Linked DNA regions of Homo sapiens. The protein of the gene in region 1 purifies or fractionates together with the protein of each later gene. This does not show direct contact. Each region holds a gene or a part of one and is shown on either strand. Other genes may lie near its edges. The genes, in order: LAT2 and PLCG2.

Region 1 (3,808 bases):
AGTGACTCACGCCTGTAATCCCAACATTTTGGGAAGATTGCCTAAGCTTAGGGGTTCAAGACCAGCCTGGGCAACACAGCGAGATCCTCTCTACAAACAATTTTAAAAGTTAGCTGGGCGTGGTGGTGCATGCCTGTAGTTCCAGCTACTCAGGAGGCTGCGGGGTAGGAAGATCGTTTGAGCCGGGAGTTGGAGGCTACAGTGAGCTGACTTTGCCAGTGCTCTCCAGCCTGGGTGACAGAGCAAGACCGTCTCAACAAGAAACAAAGAAGACAGAGGAGCTCAGGGCTCAGGGAAGAGCATGCAGGGGCACCAGGCCAGCACCCATTAGGAAGCTCATCCAGAAGAAGGCTTGAGGTCCCGGGGGACCCAGAGGGCTAGGGCTTGGCGGAAGAGGTCCCCTGCAAAGGGAAGGCAGGACAGAGCGGGAGGATGAGCCAGGCTTTGCAGGGTCTGCCCACACCCCCGTGCCCACTCCTCTCTCTCCTGCAGATGATGATGCCAATTCCTACGAGAATGTGCTCATTTGCAAGCAGAAAACCACAGAGACAGGTGAGGCTGCCCAGCCAGAGGCAGGCTGGGGCTGGGAGCAGCAGGCCTCCTTGGCCAGGTGCCCCTGCACTCCCCACTGCTCAAAGGCCGCCCCCACTTTGAAGCCTGAAGGCTCTCGGATCCCCAGGTACCTTTCGGTAGAGCCTTGCCCCTACTATCCTCGGAGGCAGCTCTATTGGCTCCTGGTGCCTCTGTGGGACTGAGCCAAGGGGGGCCTATTCTCCCTCTCTGCAGGTGCCCAGCAGGAGGGCATAGGTGGCCTCTGCAGAGGGGACCTCAGCCTGTCACTGGCCCTGAAGACTGGCCCCACTTCTGGTCTCTGTCCCTCTGCCTCCCCGGAAGAAGATGAGGAATCTGAGGATTATCAGAACTCAGCATCCATCCATCAGTGGCGCGAGTCCAGGAAGGTCATGGGTAGGTGGCCGGGAGAAGAGGCAGGGTGGTCCACTTAGGGCAGGCTTGAGGGACTGGCCTGGAAGGGCAGGCTGAAAGTGGGCTTCCCTCCAGCCAGTCCAGCTAACCCCGCAGTGATGCCTGGGTGCAGGAGCAGCTGCAGAGACCTTGAACCACACAGGACGGCCCTTGGCAGCCGCCCAGCCTCCAGGGTGGGGTCAGGTCCTCCCGGGCAGGCCGCCCCATCCAGCTGCATGCATGGAGTAACGCATTCACCTGCTCTCACAGCAGGACGATCTCCGGCAAATCCCAGAGACAGGACAGACACACACCGCCAGGACCTGTCGGGCGTGGCATTTCCCGCGGGCTGTTTTGTGGAGTCTGGGGGTCTGAGTCTGGGGGAGCAGTCATGGGTGTCTCCATGTGAACCACTCGATGACCTGTCTGCCCGCTGGTCCACAGGGCAACTCCAGAGAGAAGCATCCCCTGGCCCGGTGGGAAGCCCAGACGAGGAGGACGGGGAACCGGATTACGTGAATGGGGAGGTGGCAGCCACAGAAGCCTAGGGCAGACCAAGAAGAAAGGTACAGCCCCTGCTCTCCAGCTGCCGTGGGCCAAGGATTGGAGGTCTTGCCAAGCTGCAGGACCCCCAATCCAAGGGAACAGCCGAGAGTGTGGGTGGAGGGGCCATGGTGGGGGCTACAGGGTGCACCCATGGGTGCTCCAAGAGGGCAGCTTGGCGACTCTGTTCCTCTGTTCTGGCCAGGGGCGTCAGGCAGGGAATTCTGGTGACTTCAGGGGCAAAGAAGTGGGCACCGGGTGGGTCTCCCAACTCCACTGCATCCTCCTGGCTGCGACCTTGGACCAAGTGACAACCTCCCAGAACTTAGTTCCTCACTTGGTGCCCACCTCTCAGAGAAGACATCGCACACACGGCCGGGCACGGTGGCTCACGCCTGTAATCCCGGCACTTTGGGAGGCCGAGGCAGGCAGATCACCTGAGGTCACGAGTTCGAGACCAGCCTGGCCAACATGGTGAAACTTCATCTCTACTAAAAACACAAAAAATTAGCCAGGCATGGTGGTGGGTGCCTGTAGTCCCAGTTAGTTGGGAGGCTGAGGCAGGAGAATCATTTGAACCCTGAAGGCGGAGGTTGCGGTGAGTTAAGATCACATGCACTCAACCCTGGGTGACAGAGCGAGACTCCGTCTCAATAAATAAATAAAAAAACAGACATTGCACACAAAGCCTCAGCCCAGCAGGCACTCGGTCAATGCTGGAAACAGACAGGAGGCAGGGACGTTGGGAAATGTAACAGTGGCTGAGACGCGCTGAGGAGCCACCGCAGGCCAGTGAGATGGTGCGGCGCTAAGCGCTCACACGTGCACCATCTCTTAGCACCCAAAGCCACAGAGCAGTTAAGCCACCTGCCCAAGGCCACATCTTGAAGTAAGGGGAGGAGGAGATGGAATCCCCAGTGGTCAGACATCAGACATCAAAGCCTAGGCTGGGTCTACTGCTTGGGAAGCACGATGGACCCCCAGAGGGCCTTGAAGGCTGCCCAAAGTCCCCATCTGGGAGACCCAGGCCGTCATCTCAGCGAGCAGGCTGGAGGGTGGAAACCACAGTGAACCTGGGTGGTCAAGAGTCAGCCCCAGAGGCAGGTGCAGGAGTTTGAGCCAAATGTGCAGAGCCCCACGTCATTCATTCAACCAGTATCCACTGGGCCCCTGCTACGGGCAAGTCCTGCTCTAGGTGCTGGGAACACCAACATAAAGAACAGCAAACCCCTGACCCCTTAGAACTTGCATTCTGGTAGGAGAGAGAAAACAGATAGGGCTGGACACAGCGGTCATGCCTATAAATCCCAGCACTTCGGGAGGCTGAGGCGGGAGGATCCTTTGAGCCTCTGAGTTTGAGGCCAGCCTGGGCAACATAGCAAGACCTCTCTCTCTACAAAAACTTTTTTTTTTTTTTTTTGAGACAGAGTATCACTGTCACTCAGGCTGGAGTGCAGTGGCGCCATCTCGGCTCACTGCAACCTCCACCTCCTGGGTTCAAGCGATTCTCGTGCCTCAGCCTTCCAAGTAGCTGGGATTACAGGCACACGCCACCATGTCCAGCCTCTATAAAAACATTTAAAATTAGCCAGGCATGGTGGTGGATGCCCTAGAGTCCCACTGACTTGGGAGGCTGAGGTGGGAAGATCACTTGAGCCTGGGAGGTCAAGGTTGCAATGAGCCATGGTTGCTGCAGTGAGCTGTGGTCGTGCCACTGCACTCAAGCCTGGGCAACAGAGCAAGACCCCATCTCAAAAAAAAAATTTAAAAATTAGCTGGGCATAGTGGTGTGTACCTGTAGTCCCAGCTACTTGGGAGGCTGAGGCAGGAGGATCGCTTGAGCCCAGGAGTTCAAGGCTACAGTGAGCTATGATTGTACCACTGTACAGCCAGGATGACAGAGTGAGACCCTGTCAAAACAACAACAACAACAAGAAAACAGATAAGAAGACATGGCATGTTCACTGGTGGTAAGTCTGGCAGAGAGAAACAAAACAGGGAAGCGGGGCAGGAAGTAGTGTGGGGTTGTGGGCAAGACGCAGTGTTGCAATTTAAGGAAGGCGGCTAGGGAAGCCTTTCAGAGCTCCCTTCCTCACCCCATCTGGGGGAAGGACATCCAGGCAGAGGGGACAACAGAGGCCCCAGGGTGGAGTGAGCCCCACAGGTCTGAGCAAAGCCAGGGGCCAGGGAGGAGCAGGTGAGGGGAAACTAGTGGAGGTCGAGGCCGTTGGTGGGGAGGCTGACCAGGCAGGGCCAGCACTTGGGGTTTTACTGCATGAGATGGGAGGGAGGGAGGGAGATA
Region 2 (3,808 bases), on another chromosome or scaffold:
CTGGAATACGAGTTGCATCTTCCATCCTCCTGGAGCGTGGATGCCACGGCCACAGCCTGAGGTCTCAGCTTCACTGCCCAAGAGATGCCTTCCACCAATCACAGCCGGGCAACAACTCAACACTTCCTTTGTGGATTTGAAAGCAGGTGTTTCTCCTCTACTGGGGAAATCTATCCAGAAGTTCATTACACATCCCCAGAGCCCAGAACAGTGCCTGGCACAGGAGAGGCACTTTACAAATATGTAGAGGGCAAGGAGAAGTTGCTGCAGACCTGTGTTCCCCTACTGCCTGGTCCAAATTCCCCATCCGTTTCCCTGGAGAGCTACTCACCCTCCACCACCCTGCCTGACCAATCCCTTTGTAGCACTCATCACAAAATACTACACTGATTTCCTTATGTGCTCAAACCTCCTCAGTGCTTCTCAGTGAAGGACAGTGACGCTTCACCCCATACCCTGACCAGAGAGGGTTTGAAAAAGTGTGTGTCCTGGGGCAGGGATGTTATTTTTGATTGTTACAATGACTTAGGGTCCCAGACAGACATGCAGTGGGTAGAGACCAGGGAAGTTCAACATCCAAATACAACAGGATCAGTCCTCACACCCCAACTCTTTGAGAAACACTGTGTGGACTGAGCTTCCCTGACAGTGGGCCATGGGGTGAGGTGGGGAGCGGCCATCCTTGCTGATTGATTCACTGAGCCAGCATTCACCAACCACCAACTACATCCCAGCCAATGTTACATAAGCAGGAACAGGTCAAAAGCAAGAAACACTTGGAGTAAGGCGATGTCTCTCATCCCTGCCAGACCATTAGCCTGAGAGAGCAAGGACTGGGCTGTTTTTATCACTCCTGCATCTCTGGAGCCCAGCACAGGGCCCGGCACACAGTAGGTGCTCACCAAACATCTATTAACTTCTAAAAAATAAAAACTTCCATTCTCAAGACACCTCCAATCTCATGGGGAAGACAAGCTCACAAACTGAATGGGGCGTGTATGTAAGTCAGGCAATCAACCTGAGGACCCACCCAACCTCTTCATTCACGCGGTCCCATTGAAGTGACCCCAACCCCATCCCCAGATGGCCTGTCAGAATCATGCCACCTGGCTCAGGGAGGGGGCCATCCTTTCTGCCGGACACTGTCCTGGCAGCCCAAGGTACAGCCACCTGAGACAGAAGCTGATGGAGAGTAACGCCAGCATGCACATACAGGTGGCATCCTGACCATCATCAGGTGAGGCCCCGATCCGGTTGTGTCAGAGCTGTCTCACCGCTTGGGCACCTCAGTTTCAGCCAGTTGGGTTTAGTTGCCATCATTTGCACAGGATGACAGCACAGTGGGAGTGCCAACACCCCACCTGGGGCCTGGCACACAGCAGGTTTTCAATCCGTGTGCAGCGGACTGAACACACCTCCTCCCCATCCAGGCTGAGGAGGTACCACTAAGAGGCTTAGGGGAAAGAGCAAAGGGCAGAGGCACCAATGCTGAGAAGCCCAGGTCACCCTCTTGGGAACAGAGAGTACAGAAAAGCCATGCTGGTGGGAGGCTGCTCTCTGGCTGGAGCCAGTACACAGTAGGTCCTCAGTAAACTATAGTGATAATGACCGTCACCACGGTCCCCAGGGAGGTGGCTCAGGCATAGTGGTGCAGGCAAGGAGGAAGGGAAATCCAAACGCCCAGGGGGCAGCCTGGCAGGGTCACCAGGGGATGGGATCAGGGCAGAGGGAATGGGGAGAGGAGTGGACAGGGGCAAACCACACACCCCACAGTAGCTGCCATGCAGCCAGCACCACCGCGCCCATGTGGAAACACAGGCCCAGAGCATCCACTGCCTCCCATTTTTCACAAGAAGCAATCTGAGTTTTTCAGTGAAATTTCTCAGTTTTTCACATCAGTGTACAAAAGACGCCCACAGGCCTCTGGCTGGAGATTTGGCCCCCAGGCCTCTGGCTAGAGACTCTGGAGTGAAGAGCTTAGGCTTTGGAGACGGACAGGCCTGCATCTGAACCTCAAACTCAGTTGACTATGAGGCTGTGTGACTCCAGGCAGGTCACTTAACCTCTCTGGTCCTGTTTCCTCCCTTGCAATAACTAGACCTACCTCTCACAGGCTGTAGCAAAGGATTCAATCAGATGAGGCCTTGAAGGCAGTCCAGTGTCTAGAACACGGTTAGGAACTCAACATATAGCAGACTGTTACCACCGTAAGAACATGCAGGGAAACCCTGGGGCTGGGGAGATGGAGGGACAGTAGGCTACACGGAGTCTGAGTCACTCCTCGGCTCCTTGTCATTAGTGGAAGTGGGAGAATCTGGCGTTTTGGGGTAACATTAGAGAACCACAGGCCTAGAGGTGGTTGGGCAGCAGCTGCAGTTGGGAGGAAACCAGATCTATATCATCACAGGCCTGGGCTGCCTGGGCTGTCTGGGCTCGAATCCCAGCCCCACCACTTAGTGGCTGCATGCTTCAGCAAGTTACTTAATCTTGCTGTGCCTCAGTTTCCTCCTCTGAGAAACACGGATCATGGTCATGTCAACCCCACAGAGTTACTGGAAGCCAAAGTGAGTTACTACAGAACATCCTGCCCTGGAGAACGCAGACTGTGCCTGGCACGCAGGAGCGCACATTCTCGCAGCGGCTTTTGCTGTGGTGGTTGTTGTTGTCGCTGATGCTGGGGGGGCAGGGCACTGCAGGTGAGCCTCCACCTGAAGTTCCCCCTTGTCTCTCCGCATCTGTCCTTGCCAAGCCCCTCTGTAGAGCATGTGCCTCCCACCCTCGCACCCACCTGAAGGTGATGGCATAGGAGTCGCTCCCCTCTCGCTTCCGGATCAGGAAGGCCCCGTCCCGGGGAATCCTCATCAGCATGTCCTCTGCCTCTCCGCGGCTCAGGCTGTCATAGTACCACCTGCGGCACAGGGCCAGGGAAAACGACCAGGTGAGCGGTCTCCAGGCTGTCAGTGGGCCACCCGCAGAGGACAAGATAATGGCACCAGTGACACCTGGAACCTGGCCCTGGAAACGACCATGGAAATCACACAGTGGGCTTCCCCAGACAAAGGCACCTCAGCAAAGAGAATTTGTGAAAAGAATAGTGGAAGACCCCAGGGGTCTGTTTCAAGCCCAAAATAATACATTGGGCCGAGCACAGTGGTTCACACCTGAAATCCCAGCACTTTGGGAGGCTGAGGCAGGAGGATCACTTGGGGTCAGGAGTTTGAGACCAGCCTGGCCAACACAATGAGACCCCCATCTCTATAAAAAATAAAATAGCCTGGGCACAGTGGCTCACGCCTGTAATCCCAGCACTTTGGGAGGCCAAGGCAGGTGGATCGCGAGAAGCCAGGAGTTCAAGACCAGCCTGACCAACATGGCGAAACTCTGTCTCTACTAAAAATACAAAAATTGGGCCAGGCGTGGTGGCTCACGCCTGTAATCCCAGCACTTTGGGAGGTTGAGGCGGGTGGATCATGAGGTCAGGAGATCGAGATCATCCTGGCTAACACGGTGAAACCCTGTCTCTACTAAAAATACAAAAAATTAGCCAGGCATGGTGGCAGGCGCCTGTAGTCCCAGCTACTCAGGAGGCTGAGGCAGGAGAATCACTTGAACCCAGGAGGCAAAGGTTGCAGTGAGCCGAGATCATGCCACTGCACTCTAGCCTAGGCAACAGAATGTGACTCTGTCCCAAAAAAAAAAAAAAAAAAAAAAAAAGGAAATACAAAAATTAGCCAGGCCCAGTGGCGTGCGCCTATAATACCAGCTACTCAGGAGGCTGAGGCACAAGAATCTCTTGAACCTGGGAGGC

Evidence for each region.
Region 2: the proteins of LAT2 (region 1) and PLCG2 purify together in Homo sapiens (affinity purification with western blotting, with the first as the bait; one study listed by BioGRID). This does not show direct contact.

Annotation. Positions count from the first base shown.
Region 1 is NC_000007.14:74,223,232-74,227,039, forward strand, and holds part of LAT2 (linker for activation of T-cells family member 2), read left to right. Parts: intron 1-492; coding exon 493-552; intron 553-786; coding exon 787-966; intron 967-1,407; coding exon 1,408-1,511; 3' UTR 1,512-1,529; intron 1,530-3,808. UniProt on the Homo sapiens protein: Involved in FCER1 (high affinity immunoglobulin epsilon receptor)-mediated signaling in mast cells.
Region 2 is NC_000016.10:81,911,697-81,915,504, reverse strand, and holds part of PLCG2 (1-phosphatidylinositol 4,5-bisphosphate phosphodiesterase gamma-2), read right to left. Parts: intron 2,909-3,808; coding exon 2,789-2,908; intron 1-2,788. UniProt on the Homo sapiens protein: The production of the second messenger molecules diacylglycerol (DAG) and inositol 1,4,5-trisphosphate (IP3) is mediated by activated phosphatidylinositol-specific phospholipase C enzymes. It is a crucial enzyme in transmembrane signaling.